4 linked regions of the Homo sapiens genome follow. The protein of the gene in region 2 interacts with the protein of the main gene of each other region in a pairwise test. Each region holds a gene or a part of one and is shown on either strand. Other genes may lie near its edges.

Region 1 (3,503 bases), on a different chromosome or scaffold from region 2:
ATTGTATTTTGGCAAGCAAACACACACACACACACATACTCTCACACAGGAAACGACCTGGAAGAATATTTGGTGCTTTTATTTTTTAGATTATTTGTGTTTCTGAAATTTCTACAATTAATAAATACTGCTTTAAAATAATCAATGGTTATTTGTAATTTTAAAAAATCAAGGATTTCCATTCAATGCTAGATGCCACAAGTGGGTGACATTCTAAGAAAAAATATTGGCGATATCTACATTGACTAGAAATTTTTATCTAGAACAGACTTTTTCAACTGAAGTTCCTCATCTGAATCTCAAAAACCAGCAAATATGGCCAGGCACGGTGGCTCACGCCTGAATCCCAGCACTTTGGGAGGCCAAGGCAGGTGGATCACTTGAGGTCAGGAGTTCGAGACCAGCCTGGCCAACATGGCGAAACTCCATCTCTACCAAAAATATGATAAAATTAGCCAGGCATTGTAGTGCACACATGTAGTCCCAGCTACCCGGAAAGCTGAGGCAGGAGAATCACTTGAACCCCAGAGAGGGAGGTTGCAGTGAGGTAAGATCGCGCCACTGCACTCCACCCTGGGCGACAGAGCAAGACTCCACCTCAAAAAAAGAAAAACAAAAACAAAAACAAAAAAACAGCAAATAATTTGAGTGTTTTCTGAACTTTGCTGAGAACAGTAGGTAAATAGTCCCATGCTACAGGCTTAGAGGTTAATTTGTTATGTATATAATCCATGCCCTAGGGAATGTATAAGACATACCCATATGCAGTAGGGCTTAATTATCCCTAGGAACTAAACTAAAATATGCAAGGATCTCCTGCTAAGCAACATGAAAAAGAAAAAAGCAGAAAATCTGGTAAAGAACATGAATAAGCAATTCACAGGAAGGGAAACAAAAAAACACTAGTGAGTATATGAAAAGATGCTGAACCTCATTAGTAATCAGAGGCATGCAAATGAAAATGAGATCACGCTACACTCATTGGATTGGCAAAATTAGAAAGCTGGATGATGCCATGTCTTGATGAGGACATGCAGAAATGTAATCTCTTATGCACTGCTCATTATGAGGATAAAGTATTATAACCATTCGGGAGAGCAATTAGATGATATTTACTAAAACGCCGTTTGCAGGTGTCCTGTTATCCAGCAATTCTACTCCCAGCTACAATGACAGGAGACTGGCACAGAATCAGAAGGGAGCATGTACCAGGATGCTCATGGTGACACGGTTTGTAGGGGCAGGAACTGGAAGGCAATCTAGGTCTCCAACCTCAGGGGAATGTATGAACAAAATATGGTGAATGAACACCGCAGATTTCTCTGCAGCTGTTAGAAGCAAAGAACTAGATGTACTTGGAGCAGCATGAATAGATCTTGAAAAAAAGTGCTGAATTAAAAAAACACAATGCAACAGAAACTGATTCACAGCTTCAATGCCATTTATGGACATTTAAAATGCACACATATGCAGAACAATGCTTTAGCTTTTCGAGCATATGTATCAAAACATTAAAATTGGATGGGTGCCCCTGGGAAAAAGGAAAGTAGGCAGGGGACTGGGAATGAAGGGAAAGAAATAAAACTAAAAGACAAAAGGTTTGCATAGACCAATATTGATGAAGTGCCACACACTGAGGAGTGTGCTGAGCTGCGTGAGGTGCAGAGGGAACCTGGAAAGGAGAGAGCAGGAGTATAGAAAAGTACAGCTCTTGGGAGGCTGAAGGTCAGATAGTCAGGTAGCCTGGGGTCAAATCTGAGCTCTGCTGCTTCCCAGCTCTTTCACCTTGGACACGTCTTCCAAGCTCCCTCGCGTTTCTTTTTACGTCAAACAAGGATACAAGATGTATACACAAGCAGATAGCAGAATTGCTCCTGACACACAGTGGGTACATGATGACATTAGTAAATTTAAAACTACAGGCCGGGTTTTAAAACTTTAGTTTTAACATTAGTAAATTTAAAACTACAGGCCGGTGGCTCACGCCTGTAATCCCAGCACTTTGGGGGGCCAAGGCGGATGGATCACGTGAGGTCAGGAGTTCGACACCAGCCTAACAAACATGGTGAAACCCCGTCTCTACTAAAAATACAAAAAAGTAGCAAAGCGTGGTAGCAGGCGCCTGTAATTCTAGCTACTTGGGAGGCTGAGGCAGGAGAATTGCTTGAACCTGGGAGGCAGAGGTTGCGGTGAGCCAAGATCACGCCATTGCACTCCAGCCTGGGCGACAGAGAGACTCTGTCTCAAAACAAAACAAAAATGCTACAGAGCAGGAATGCACTTCCAAGATCTAGTACAATGAATGTTTCTCAAATGCAAGTGGTAATTTATTAATGGGTCATGAAATAAGTAATGGGTCCCAAACAGCATTAAAAAGAAAGATTATCAGAGTACATTTCACTAAAAGTATCTTTTTATAGAACTGTTATTTCAGTTATATATAATGAGTACTAAAATGCATTTTTTCCCTATGGCAGGCAATCAAAAAGTTTGAAAAACATGGATATTGTCCAAAGGAGTTCTACACCTTTGGGCTTCAAGAACCAGTAAGTATTCCCTGAGACAAAAGTTGTTCAGGGAGGCAACCTTTTAATCTATAAAGGGCATTCAAAAAGAAACTTTTATAATCTTCTCTTACTATTGTAACATAAAAGAAAGGACATTTTTAACATTGTAAAAATAGAACAGAATAACAGGCTTTATGTAAAACTCACTACTTTGTACTTATTTTTCTCCCTTCCCTGTCTTTCGGAACCCGAGGACAGAATCCCAGAGGTAGGAATGGACTCACTGAAGGTCACTGAGTCAGCTGTGACAGAGGTGACACAGAACCCTTATGTCCTGGCTTCACTTTCCAAGCTCTGCTCCTCAGAACCCTAAGGGGTCCACAAAAGTGGAGCCTAGCAGGTGGGGTCTCTAGAATCCCCAACCCTGTTTTACTGGGAGTGGCCCTGCTTCTGTGAGATTTCATTTGAATAAAGAATTTCACTGTTTAAAAAAAAAAAAGAATTAGAAAGCTCCTGGGGGGCGGAAGCCATGGGAGAATGCTGCCTCCCAGGATAGGGCCAGATCGCAGAGGTTATTATATTTCAATTTAAATTTAGATGTTTTTCCCTAGTGACATGAGGGAGCTATTTAGGATTTCTAAGCAAGAGAGAGAATAGATCGGGGTTGTGCTGAAAGATAATTACTCAGGTGCGAGTGTAACAGCTGGACTGGCTGCATAGGAACAGTGGGAAGTAGAGAGCAGCTATTTAACCATTGCAAAGGTCCTGGCATGAGGCTGGGGTGGGGGTGCTGCCTGAGGCGGCAGGGATGCAGAAGATGGCACCTCAAATTCTCTGGGGTTATGGCCAGCCAAAGCCAGGCTCTCCAAGCCATACCCCATATCTCCTTTTTTCTGCTCTAATACCTGCTTGGGCAGCTCTCCCAGGAACATAGGCATGGGGACTCCGAAGGCCCTCACCTGCAGCGCCAGCTGGCAGTCCTCAATCAGGCCCTGC
Region 2 (5,108 bases):
CGATGCACCCTGGACAGATGACCTGAACGGGGATGCCGCCCGCAGGGGCCGGGGCTCCCAGTCATCCCCCTGGATCTTGTGGTACACAGGCTGGTGGGTCTGGTACTCCCCCTGCTGCGCTGGGTAGTGCGTCTTCTGGGCTTGGTGGAAGGAGGGCTGGGCTGCTGGCCGGGTAACGTTCTGCTCGTGTATCACCGGAATGGAGATGTACCCCCGCGGGAGCTGGTGACTGCCCAGGCTGCTCCTGCCGGAGGAAGGCAGGCTGGCCGAGGAGGATGAGGATGAGCAGTCAGAGGCAGCTGGAGACTGGGACCGCTGCAAGAGACACAGGGTAGAGGGCATGACCCCACAAATGACTCCCCTGGCTTGGCATCCTGACCACGCCTTCTGCTGTGCACCTCCTCAGGGCAATCCATATTGTAAGACCTCCTATCTGTAATTTTCAATTTTCAAAATGTGCGGTTAAGACTGAGAGCTCTGGGGCTGGGCGCGGTGGCTCACACCTGTAATCCCAGCACTTTGGGAGGCCTAGGTGAGTGGACCACCTGAGGTCAGGAGTTCAAGAGCAGCCTGGCCAACATGGTGAAACCCCATCTCTACCAAAAATACAAAAATTAGCTGGGTGTGGCGGCGCATGCCTGTAGTGCCAGCTACTCAGGAGGCTGAGGCAGGGGAATTGCTTGAACCTAGGAGGCAGAGGTTGCAGTGATTTGAGATCACACCACTGCACTCCAGTCTGGGCAACAGAGAGAGACTCCACCTCAAACAAAGCAAAACAAAACAAAACAAAACAAAACACACACACACACAACAAAGACTGAAGGCTTTGGAATCAAGGGGCCTATGTTCAAATTCCTAGTAATTCAATCATTTTCTAAGCTTCATTTGAAATATAGGAAGAGTGCCCCTCCCTCACTGGGCTGCTCTGAAGATGAGGTCAGTCACCTGGGCATGTGCCTCAGCCCCAGGCCAGCACACAGGAAGCGCTCATACAAGGGATGTGTTGTCCCCACTACCCTTTCTCTGCCAATCTACAGAGAACTCGGCTGAGCAACTGGGAGCTGCCAGCATCCCGTGTGGCCCAAGGCAGGTCAAGCACCTTTCCCTGCTGGGCCACCTTCTATTCACCTCGAAATTGAGAGCATTTCCTCTTCTAAGTGCTTTGTTAGCCTAAATTTGTGAAGATGTCTCGCATTTATGTGTCACTTTGATTTCTTGCAGCAAAACCATTATAAATATAGGCATTACTTATTTTTTTATTTTTGAGACAGTCTCGCTCTATCACCTAGGCTGGAGTGCAGTGGTGCGATCTCGGCTCACTGCAACCTCTGCCTCCTGGGTTTAAGCAATTCTCCTGCCTCAGCCTCCTGAGTAGCTGGGATTACAGGAATGTGCCACCATGCCCGGCTAATTTTTGTATTTTTTGTAGAGACGGGGTTTCACCGTGTTAGCCAGGCTGGTCTTGAATTCCTGGCCTCAAGTGATCCACCTGCCTCAGCCAGGTACTACCTCTCTAAGAAAAGAAAAAAGGTATCCCACATTAACTGTAACTTTCACTCTCAAGCAGGTGTGAAGCTGAACAGATTCAGACGGAGCTGAGAGGCAAGCATGACTCAGGGTGCAGATAGGACACGGGAGTTTGTGCCCAGGAACAACGCTGGCACACACCACAGGATGATGTGCAGACAGGAAAATGAGAGGACTTACTGCTTAGGAATCCTACTAGGAATGCCTCAAATCTCAGCTAAGAACCAGATTAAGAACTATTTTTTAGCTATTAATGCACAGAATCCATTGACATATCCCTGAGATGTTTGGCTTCAGGATTAAAATGCTGTCTTAAAGCAGCTGCCTTCCTGACTCCTTATTTCTTTTGAAACTGTGGTGCACGGTGAGGGCAGGCATGGGGTCTCATTTTCCTGTCAACATAGCTCCACAAGCGGTTAAGATTTATCCATAAGCATTGAACTGAACAAAATAATGCACAGCTATCTCTGTGCTTCTGAATAGAAAGCCCAGTGTGAATAAGGAGCATGGAAATTAGGCGCCAGAAGGCAGGCCAGGCTTCCGGTCCCAGCTCTGCTCCCTCCACCTGTGTGCATCTGGAGCAGGCAGGCTGCAGTGTGCCCTTCCGAGCCGTTCCTTAGCTACAAAAAGAAGCCACATGATTCCTGCCCTGCCCCACTGAAGAACAGCCCTATGAGATGCTGGGGGATGATGTGGGGCCATCACCCTGTCTTTGCTGGGTGACCTCTGATGCTGCAGGCTAGACCCAGATGCCCTGCATGTGAACAGGTGCCTGGCCCAGGGCACTGTCCTGAGGGGATGGGCCCGGCCTGGGAAGCACAGCGGCTTGCTCCCCAGCAGGCTGGTGAGCCTGGCCTCTCCTTACCTCAGGTCCGTGGGAGGCTGGGGGCTGGGCTGCCGCCGCCGCTGCCACCTGTCCACACTGTTTATCTGGCTGAGTGGTTTCTGGCATGCCCCGCAGAGGTGACTGGGACCTCTGAGGAGCCGCTGCTGCCGCCTCAGTTCGGAATCGCTGCATCCCAGGCTGGGGATAGACATGGAAAGGGTGCACCTGCCGGTTCTCAGCGCCTTCATGGAGCACAGGAATGGGAATGTAGCCTGGTCGGAGCTGGGGGTACACAGGGTGGCCTTCCCTAGCAGGCGGCAGCCTAGAGCCCTCCCGGGAAGGGCCATTGGCAGAGGATGGAGTCTCCTGAAATAAAAAGTGGAGAAACACAGGCTGGTTAGAAACTGGGAAGTGAACCCTCCTGGCAGAGGAAACACTGTGGCGCTTGGCATTGTGATCTTCCCGAGTGACTTGGGCCTCAAAGCGTCAGCCAGCTCCCAGCCCCTGTACCCTCCAAACCCCCCACCCCATAGAGGTTGCTATTTGGCCAACAGTTTAGGAATTAGGGGCATCAGGAGAAAGCCAAAAGTATCTGTTAAGCAAAGGAAAGGTCCCAATTCTCCAAACTGGTAAGACAGGTTTCTTTTCTGGGTGACTGAGGGAAGCGGTGAGTGTAGGAGAGCTGCCCATGCCCGCATTTTCAGAGACCCGGATCAGAAGATGAGCTCCAGGAGCAGGGGTCAGCTCCAACCTCTACATTACAGCAAGCGTCTCTGTTTCCAAAAAGGCCCTCACATTTCCCAGCAATATAGAGCTTGTACTGGGCCCAAACACAGGACACAGTTTGGGAATCTTTACAGAGAAGTGGGCTGGGGAGCGAGGGCTGCCTCCTCAGGAGTATTGTTAGAACAATTTGCAGGAAGGGGAAGGACAGGGATGCAGAGGCAGCATAGGGAGAGAGGGGCACCCAGGGTTAACTGTGTCGCCTAACGATGCCAACTGACAAAGATTCTCTGCTTGACCAAATCTTAGGCTTCCGAAGCATCTCCTAGGCCCATCTGTGCACTTCCTTGTAAAGTCAAGTTTTAGCAAAAGACACTGCTAAGTCAGTTTAGCCAGAAACCCCCTCCCCAGCCTCACTATCTGATCAGCTTCCACAGCCTCCAGGTGCTGTCTAATCACCCTGGCCTGTCTTCGGCAAGAATCCTGTTTGGTCAGCATAGCCAGAAACACCCTTAGCCCTGATGTTTCCTCTTCTAATTTTCCATCCACACTGCTCCTTGACTATAAATTCCCAATCGCCCGTGTTGTATTTGAAGTTGTGCCCAGTCTCTACCCATGACTGCACGACCCCACTGCCGTGGTCCCTGTGCCTATCTTGATGGCCCCGAATAAATCTTCCTGACTGTGCTTTAACAAGTATCACTGAAGAACTTTTTCTTCAACGCAACAGAGCCTGCTTGGGCAAGGAGCAGTTGGGGTCCTTCTCTTATGTCCTCTCTTGAAGTTCTCCCTTCAGTGGCCTGGCTATTTTGGGACCCTTGAGAAGGCCAAGTTCCAGATGTACCACAGGAAAGATCTTATTTCAGACAACAAGGCTGGCCAGTCACTCACTGGGCAATGCCATCTCTCAGCAAGCTGGGCTGCGCAACAGAAGTCCTAACAGTCCCCGAGCACCGAGGGTCCTTTCCCAGGAGGGGAGCTACTGATAAGTGTCATTTGCATATATCTGTGTAAGGCAACTCTTAAGAAGGGGAGTGATCTTTCCTGACGAAGGCAGCTGTCTGCACGGCGAACAAACGCCAAAGGCTAACAATCTATGAGCTTGCAGGGGACAATCTCTACTGCTGCGGAATCAATCAAAAGTAAGGACAGATACTGAGGGCTGCTCTGCACTTTGAGAGAACAGACCATTAATTCTGTGATGTTTCTATTTGTGTGCAGGCGTGGGCACCAGGTGGCTGACCCTGGTTTAGCCCTTTCAGGCCCATCAACTGCCTCCCTCCTGCTGAGACCCTGCCCTTGGAGGGCCTCCAGCACACAGGAAAGGCATGGGTGTCACTGTGTCCTTGGGGACATGGGCAGACAGGCATTCTCAGATTAGAACAGCCACGTGCTCAGGGCGGCGGCATTACATTAGCCTGCTTAACTCTCAGGTCACCCAAGAGCAGGAGCAGGTCCAGGCCTCACATTCAGAGCTGAATTCCTGCCGTGAGATGGCCCTGACAGGGAGCCAGCAAGAGGCGCTGAAGAAACCCTCTGCTACTCAGTGTTGAGTCATAACGTGCCTGTGGGCATTCTGTCCACTCACTGAGGTCCTCCTCCTTCCAGCCGAAATCGGAGCCTGCATTAGTCCTGCAGTGTCATTTTTGCTGGCTGCCCAGGGGCTCATTGTTTCTTCCCAGCCACGCACAAAAGCCTCAACCATCTGCACACTCCACACAGCAGGGACCAGCAGTGAGCAAACCCTCATCCACCACCTGGGGGAACATCCTGCCACCCGCTGAGGAGTCCTATGGGGTTACCAAACCAGCAAGGGGCACTCCCTGCCAACAGGGGCTTAGAAGATGGGCTAAGGGGGCAGGAAACAAACAAGAAGCAGAATTACTTGGAAAGCACGGAGGCCCTGAGGGATGGGGAAAGGCACAGGCTCTTCCAGGGTAGACGCTGCCCTAGGTAGGGTCTAAGTGTGATTCGTACCTCTATTTCTAACAGTTCTGTGAGCTTGGGTAATTCTCTTACCTCTGTAAGCCTT
Region 3 (3,503 bases), on a different chromosome or scaffold from region 2:
CCTGTGCCTTCTCCTGGGCTGAGCCCTGAGCTGGAAAGGGACAGAGCCAGTCCTTTCTGGGGGTCGGCACCCAGGCTGGGGCCGCTCCAGGCCCCGTGCAGTTCCTCAGCTCTGCCTGGGTTGCCTTACAGTGAGACGGAGCTGCCTCCTCTGACTGCGCGGGAGGCGAAGGTAAGAGCCTGATGCGTGGAGGGGCTGGTCCAGGGACGTAGGGACTGGGCGGGTGGTCAGTGAGGCAGAGGAAGCAGCTGGCCTGAGCGGTGGCGGGTGAGGGCAACACGCTGTCACTGGGAGGGGCAGCAGTCCCTGCTGGACCTGACCCCAGGTTGCTGTTCACTTTGGCAGTTTGATAAAATTCCAAAAGGAGAACCACAGTCCTGGCTTGGGGGTGGCTGCGCGCTTGTGTCAGGACCCCACCTAGAGGCTGGGACCTAAGACTGGTGTGTCTGTGGCCTGAGGATGGTACATCCCGGGGTCCCAAAGCCAGCCCACTGGTGCTCATTTGCTCAAAGGCTCTCAGCCCTTGAGGTCTGCCCTTCCCTGGCTCCTTCCAGCTGGCTCCCACCAGGGCTCCAGAGCCCAAGACCCAGCATCTGCGGGCGGCTCTGGGAAGCCTGGCAGCTCCGCTAACTCCAACATGCCTCATTTGACAGCAAATTCGGCGGGAGATCAGCCGAAAGAGCAAGTGGGTGGATATGCTGGGAGACTGGGAGAAATACAAAAGCAGCAGAAAGGTAACGTGTGGAGGGAGGAAGCACTCTCTGCAGAGACAGGGGACAGGCACCCATGGCTGTGGCCTGGCACCATCAGCCTCTCAGAGGGTGGGCGGCACACTGTCCTCGCCCAGAGGACTGCAGGCCTGGTCGCCAGATTTCCTGCCTATTCGTGCAAGCGTCACCTTGCAGGGAGGGAATCTGAATCTAGGGCTGGGACTACCCGGAGCTCAAGGCTAGGGATGCCCTGGGGACCTGAAGGAAGGAAAAGGTTCAGATCAGAGTTTCGACTCTGAGTGTCCATCCACTCTTTCAGTCCTGGGAAGGGAGACCCTGTCCCAGCTTGATCTCACCTCTACTGAGGAATCATGGGGCCAAAACCGACAATTTCCAGAATCCCCGGGCTCTGGTCCTCACTGGGGTCACCCCGTGGCCTGTGACACCAGATCGTTTTCTGCCCACAGCTCATAGATCGAGCGTACAAGGGAATGCCCATGAACATCCGGGGCCCGATGTGGTCAGTCCTCCTGAACATTGAGGAAATGAAGTTGAAAAACCCCGGAAGATACCAGGTACGCTCAGCCAGAGCACAACAAACAGGACAGGCCGTGTCGGGGCCCAGGTCTCCAGCTGGAGGGAACGTCAAGACCACCCTGGGGAGCTGGGGGTGAAGGTCAGATGAACACCCTGGGCACAGATGGTGACACAGTCACCACAGACAAACTCAGCTCTGGTGACCCTCCCTGGCTTCAGTAACAAGCCAAAATGCAGCTTTCTGCAGAAGGAAACCTTCCTTCTGTCCTTCCTTCCCGAAGTGCTGACTGTGGGCTGACTGCCACTGGGGGCAGGGAGTCTTCCATCTGTTCTGAGACTGCTTCCTCCTCTTGGCCCTGCCCTACAGATCATGAAGGAGAAGGGCAAGAGGTCATCTGAGCACATCCAGCGCATCGACCGGGACATAAGCGGGACATTAAGGAAGCATATGTTCTTCAGGGATCGATACGGAACCAAGTAAGCCTACGGGAGCCACAGGGTCCCAGCAGAGATGGGGTGAATGAGAGGGATGGGGGCTTCCCCGGAGCAGAAGCCAGGGTCACCCAGGAGGGATGACACAGCTGCCAAGAGCTCTCCCGGCCCAGGGAGCAGCCGGCACCATGAACCGAGCACCTCCCTGGTTCCAAGCCCTGGGCCAGACTGGAACATGTGGGGCCAGAACCCAGGAGGATCCTGAGGAGATGGAAGGCAGCAAACAAAATCATGCACAATGGTGAAGGGTGCTCTCCCTGACCCATGGGGACCCATGGTAGGACCCACGGGAGGGTGGCAGGATAGAGGGCCCATGAGCCCCCCCCAGGCAACAGTGACAGCACCAAATGCTGGGAGAATTAGGGGTCCTGGAAACTCTCATCCAGGTCCGCTGGGAACATGACATGGCACAGCCACGTTGGCAGCCAGTTGGGCAGTGGCTCACAAAGCTCGATGGACTTGAACCACACATCCCCAAAGTGTCACAGATATTGAACCCACTGATTTGCAAACTGACATCCACATGAAACCAGCATGCCAGGTTCACTGCTTGACTCCTCGTCACTCACACACGGAGCCTTCGGGGACGGCCTTCAACACGGGGATGGGGAGAGCAAGGCTGGTCCTCCCTTCAAACGGAAGACCCAGTGAGAAAAGGGAACGAGCCGGTGATGCCCGCACGAACGTGGGTGGATCCTAGATGCATTTTGCTGAGGGACAGAAGCCAGACCCAATAAGCTACCACAGTAGGATTCCCATTCCTAGGCCATTCTGGAAAAGGCCAAACCACAGGGACTGAGAAGCAGTCTGGGTGGCCAGGGGCTGACGGATCGGGGAGAGGCTGGTTGCATAGGGGCCACCCTGGAGACTTGGAGGATGAAGGAGTCGCCCCAGGAGGGGCTGGAGCGGTGGCCGGGAGACTCTGCACATCGGTTTGGAACCGTGGAGGAACTGTACACCCACAGACTGAACTGGCGTGTGTGCAAACTGAAAAAAAAAATCATTCAGAGTGAAAAGGATCAGGCAAGTCACTGTACAACTGGGCTATTTGCATGTCACAGATGTGGATTTTACTGAAACATTTCTTCAAGAGTCTCAGGCCCTGAAGAGCTCACTGCTTATCTGGTGAAACATCTGAACCTGAAATGGGATTTGCTGTTAGGCTTTGTAGACAAAGTGAAATTAACAACATCTGCACAAAACAAACCAAAGCCCCCTTTCTCTGTTTCCTAGGCAGCGGGAACTACTCCACATCCTCCTGGCATATGAGGAGTATAACCCGGTGAGTATTCCCGGCAGTGAGGTTCCCGGGCCATATTTCCATATTGACAGGAGTGGGTGTCTGGTGGGGGTGTCGTTGCTTCTTTTAAAGTTAGTATTTGTGACCCACCAGGATATAGGAGGTAGGATGTCAGCTCACCGCTGGCATAAACCTCCAAGGAAGGGGGTGGTCTCAAGGGGTCAAGCTGAGACACAAAGGAGTCAGGGCCCGGACTCCTGGTGTCACCTGGGCCTGACCACCACTTCTCAGAACAAGAAATGACGCCCTCCTCCTGGGGCTGCCCCAAAGCCCAGGAGCTTGGCAGCATCGCACACAGGATGGTGCTATCAGCAGACATTTTGGACAAGGTGCTGAAGTGCCTGATGGACTTGGCTCTTGTCATGAAATGAATGTGCATCCTGAGGAAGCCTCTTTTTCAGAGGAAGCCTCTCCTTCAGAGGAAGCCTCTCCAGTCACCTCTGCCCTCTCCAATGACATGAGTC
Region 4 (3,503 bases), on a different chromosome or scaffold from region 2:
TAAAGTCATTAAATCACCCCATTAGGTGTCAATACATCCAGGCAGCACACCGGTTACTATAGAAGGCAAAAGGTGCCAACATAGCCCTGTTATGCCCTACAGCGAAGAGTGGCCTTCCTAGAAAGCTCACTGGGTGGACTGCGTTGGGAGAGCAAGAGGCACGTGAGCTGGCCTGAGTTATCAGAAACCAAGGAAGGCTTGATGACTGGCCTGGCCACAGATCTACCAGCCCTGAGAGTGGAGTCAGGGCATCAGCCATATTTTACAGCCCCACTCATCCAGTCGTTAAGCTACTTGGTTTCCTGCTGAAGCTCAATTCCAGTCCCTCCAAAACTCCCTCAGCCTCCCGTCCTTTCCCAGGCCAGTTCTCATGATACAAACATTATCAATAGTTGAATATGAAGAAACCCCTTCTGCGTAGCTCCCAAGCGAGCATCAGATAGAGAGCCGCAGAATGAACTAATTTTTGGAGAAAATACTTCAGATATAGGATGGAGATGGAAGCATTCGCTCTTATTGTACATCCTCTCTGGGCATGTTTGCCATGCCATGGTTCTGGTTCGTCAGAAAGTGCAATTGAAAAAGAGTAGGGGAGGGGCCTGGACAAGTGGCTCATGGCTGTAATCCCAGGACTTTGGGAGGCCAAGGCGGGCGGATTGCCTGAGCTCAGGAGTTCAAGACCAGCCTGGGCAAAACAGTGAAACCCCATCTCTACTAAAAATACAAAAGTTAGCTGAGCGTAGTGGCGCGCGCCTGTAGTCCCAGCTACTCAGGAGGCTGAGGCAGGGGAATCGTTTGAATCCGGGAGGCAGAAGTTGCAGTGAGCCAAGATCGCGTCACTGCACTCCAGCCTGGCAACAGAGTGAGAATCCATCTCAAAAAAAAAAAAAAAGAAAAGAAAAAAAAAGAAAAAGAGTAGGGGAGGCTGTGTGTGGTGGCTCATGCCTGTAATCCCAGCACATTGGGAGGCCGAGGTGGGTGGATCACTTGAGCTCAGGAGTTCGAGACCATTTTGAGACCAGCCTGGGCAACATGGCGAAACCCACTCTCTACAAAAAAATATAAAAATTAGCCTGGCATGGTGGTGCATGCCTGTAGTCCCACCTACTTGGGGGCTGAGGCAGGAGGATTACTGGAGCCCAGGTGGTTGAGGCTGCAGTGAGCCACGTTCATGCCACTGCACTTCAGCCTGCGTGACAGAGCAAGAACTTATCTCAAAAAAAAAAAAAAAGTAGGGGAAATCAGCCCCCATGATCCCCAAAGAGCACATGTGAGGAAGATTTGTTCACTTTTTGACTACTAAAAAGTTGAGTGCACTGAGTTTCAAACTTTTTTTTCAAGCTGTAAAATCTGCAAGCAAAATACTATGTAGCAGTGCAATATATAATGCAGATTTAAATGGAGCTTCTTGTTTGGCTAAAGTAAAGATGAAGGACATTCCTGTGCCTCCCTGTTTCTCCTCCAAGGTGCCATTCCATATATCTCTCAGGTTCCTTGGAATACAGTTTGAAAACCACTGACCTAAAGCAACAGAGGACAGGGGTCTATCTGGAGCAGCTGAGAGAAGCCTATCAGCATTCCAATTTTCTATCTTCAAAAAACAAGGGAGCCTTCCCTTACCAGCCACCCAAACATTGGGCCTGTGGCTCTGTAGTCACTATGGGCCTCTGACAAAAAGCACCAGTCCTGGCCAGGTTCAGTGGCTCATGCCTGTAATCCCAGCATTTTGGGAGGCTGAGGCACATGGATCACTTAAGGTCAGGAGTTCAAGACCAGCCTGGTCAACATGGTAAAACCCTGTCTCTACTAAAAGTACAAAAATTAGCTGGGCATGGTGGTGCACCTAATCCCAGCTACTTGAGAAGCTGAAGCAGGAGAATTGCTTGAACCCGGGAGGCGGAGGTTGTAGTGAGCCAAGATCACGCCACTGCACTCCTGCTTGGGTGACAGAGCAAACTCTGTCTAAAAAAAAAAATGAAACAAAAAAAAAGTACTTGGCCGGGCATGGTGGGTGGCTCACGCCTGTAATCCCAGCACTTTGGGAGTCAGAGGCAGGAGGATCACTTGAGGCCAGGAGTTTGGGACCAACCTGGGCAACATAGTAAGACTCTATCTCAATTTTTGTTGTTGTTGTTGTTGTTGCCCAGGCTGGAGTGCAGTGGTGCGATCTTGGCTCACTACAACCTCTGCCTCCCAGATTCAAGTGATTCTCCTGCCTCGATCTCCCAAGTAGCTGGGGCTACAGGCGCGTGCCACCATGCCTGACTAATTTTTTGTATTTTCAGTAGAGACAGGGTTTCACCGTGTTAGCCAGAATGGTCTTGATCTACTGACCTGGTGATCTGCCCACCTCGGCCTCCCAAAGTGCTGGGATTACAGGCATGAGCCACCGCGCCTGGCCCTCAATTTTTAAAAATAAAAAATAAAAAAAGAAGCATCTGTCCACCCAACCCCAATCCCTGTGTGATCTCAGTTCTCACCTGCTTTGGCAAAGTCTTCCCGGTTATAACTGAAATCCTTGAGGAAGGTGATACTCTCACTCCCAGGGTTGTACCTCCGAGATGTCTCCAGAAGCATCACCTGCACACAAGCAGCAAACCTCAAACGGGGACTAGGAGGGCTGGTCTTGGAGCATGGCCTCTTCCAGGGAGGCCGATTCTCCTCATCCCTGCTTCCCAGCAGATTTGGCTCTCCCAGCTCGATGTCTGGAGGCCCCTCCCACAGATAATCCCACTCTGCTTCTCCCTTCATCCCTTGCCCTTCTCCAGCCACCTCGATCGCAGAGGTCTTCAGCAGGGCAATCTGGTCCTCCCGGCTGAGCTGCAGGAAGCCGGGTAGCTGTTTAGCAAAGTCAACTATCTCCTGCACAGAGACGATGGCCAGCTCAGTGAAGTGGGCAAAGCGCTGCTGACGGGCCTCCCGGCTATGGGGATCTGGTGCCATGGGCCAAGGCTACCCAGGAGGGAAAAGGCAAAGCGCTTTGAGTCGGACATCAAGAAGCCCACTGGTGATCTGGGCGCAGCCGCCTCTCCCCAGGTGTGTCAAGTACCGTGACTCGAAGCCGGTCAGAAAAGGAGCGCCGGTTACACTGTTGCTGGGCAGCGACGAGCTTCTCGATCATGCCCAGTTGTTCCGGGCTGAGCTGGGGCAGGATTTGGGGGGGTGAGGAAGCCCTGGGGGGCAAGGATGTGGCATGAGCCTGTTCCTCCTCTTGCCGCTTCAGTTTCTTCAGGCGGATCTGTTCTTCTGACAGGACACCTAAGGACAGGGCCAAATATGAGGAAGGGAGCAGATGGGGAAAGGATGGGGCAAGGGGGTGGGGGAAAGACAGGAGGGAAGGATGGGGCAAAGGGGGTGGTTTGGGGCTCCAGAAAAGCAGACAGCACTGGGTAAAGGCAAGAAGATTTTTTTTTTTTGAAACAGAGTCTCACACTTGCTCAGGCTGGAGTGCAGTGGCATGATCTTGGCACACTGCAACCTCCACCTCCCGTGTTCAAGTGATT

The links.
Region 1: the proteins of BAG3 (region 2) and KCTD13 interact in binary tests that used the Homo sapiens proteins (3 or more experiments, as listed by UniProt).
Region 3: the proteins of BAG3 (region 2) and TBC1D3G interact in binary tests that used the Homo sapiens proteins (3 or more experiments, as listed by UniProt).
Region 4: the proteins of BAG3 (region 2) and NR1H3 interact in binary tests that used the Homo sapiens proteins (3 or more experiments, as listed by UniProt).

The regions. Positions count from the first base shown.
Region 1 is NC_000016.10:29,919,724-29,923,226, forward strand, and holds part of KCTD13 (BTB/POZ domain-containing adapter for CUL3-mediated RhoA degradation protein 1), read right to left. Parts: coding exon 3,467-3,503; coding exon of another isoform or gene 3,413-3,466; intron 2,239-3,412; coding exon of another isoform or gene 2,131-2,238; exon of another isoform or gene 1-2,130. UniProt on the Homo sapiens protein: Substrate-specific adapter of a BCR (BTB-CUL3-RBX1) E3 ubiquitin-protein ligase complex required for synaptic transmission.
Region 2 is NC_000010.11:119,667,462-119,672,569, reverse strand, and holds part of BAG3 (BAG family molecular chaperone regulator 3), read right to left. Parts: intron 2,720-5,108; coding exon 2,393-2,719; intron 316-2,392; coding exon 1-315. UniProt on the Homo sapiens protein: Co-chaperone and adapter protein that connects different classes of molecular chaperones including heat shock proteins 70 (HSP70s), e.g. HSPA1A/HSP70 or HSPA8/HSC70, and small heat shock proteins (sHSPs), e.g. HSPB8.
Region 3 is NC_000017.11:36,326,884-36,330,386, forward strand, and holds part of TBC1D3G (TBC1 domain family member 3G), read left to right. Parts: coding exon of another isoform or gene 1-131; coding exon 132-171; intron 172-653; coding exon 654-734; intron 735-1,177; coding exon 1,178-1,285; intron 1,286-1,614; coding exon 1,615-1,724; intron 1,725-2,972; coding exon 2,973-3,021; intron 3,022-3,503. UniProt on the Homo sapiens protein: Acts as a GTPase activating protein for RAB5. Does not act on RAB4 or RAB11.
Region 4 is NC_000011.10:47,260,996-47,264,498, reverse strand, and holds part of NR1H3 (oxysterols receptor LXR-alpha), read right to left. Parts: intron 3,259-3,503; coding exon 3,050-3,258; intron 2,953-3,049; coding exon 2,773-2,952; intron 2,581-2,772; coding exon 2,481-2,580; intron 1-2,480. UniProt on the Homo sapiens protein: Nuclear receptor that exhibits a ligand-dependent transcriptional activation activity.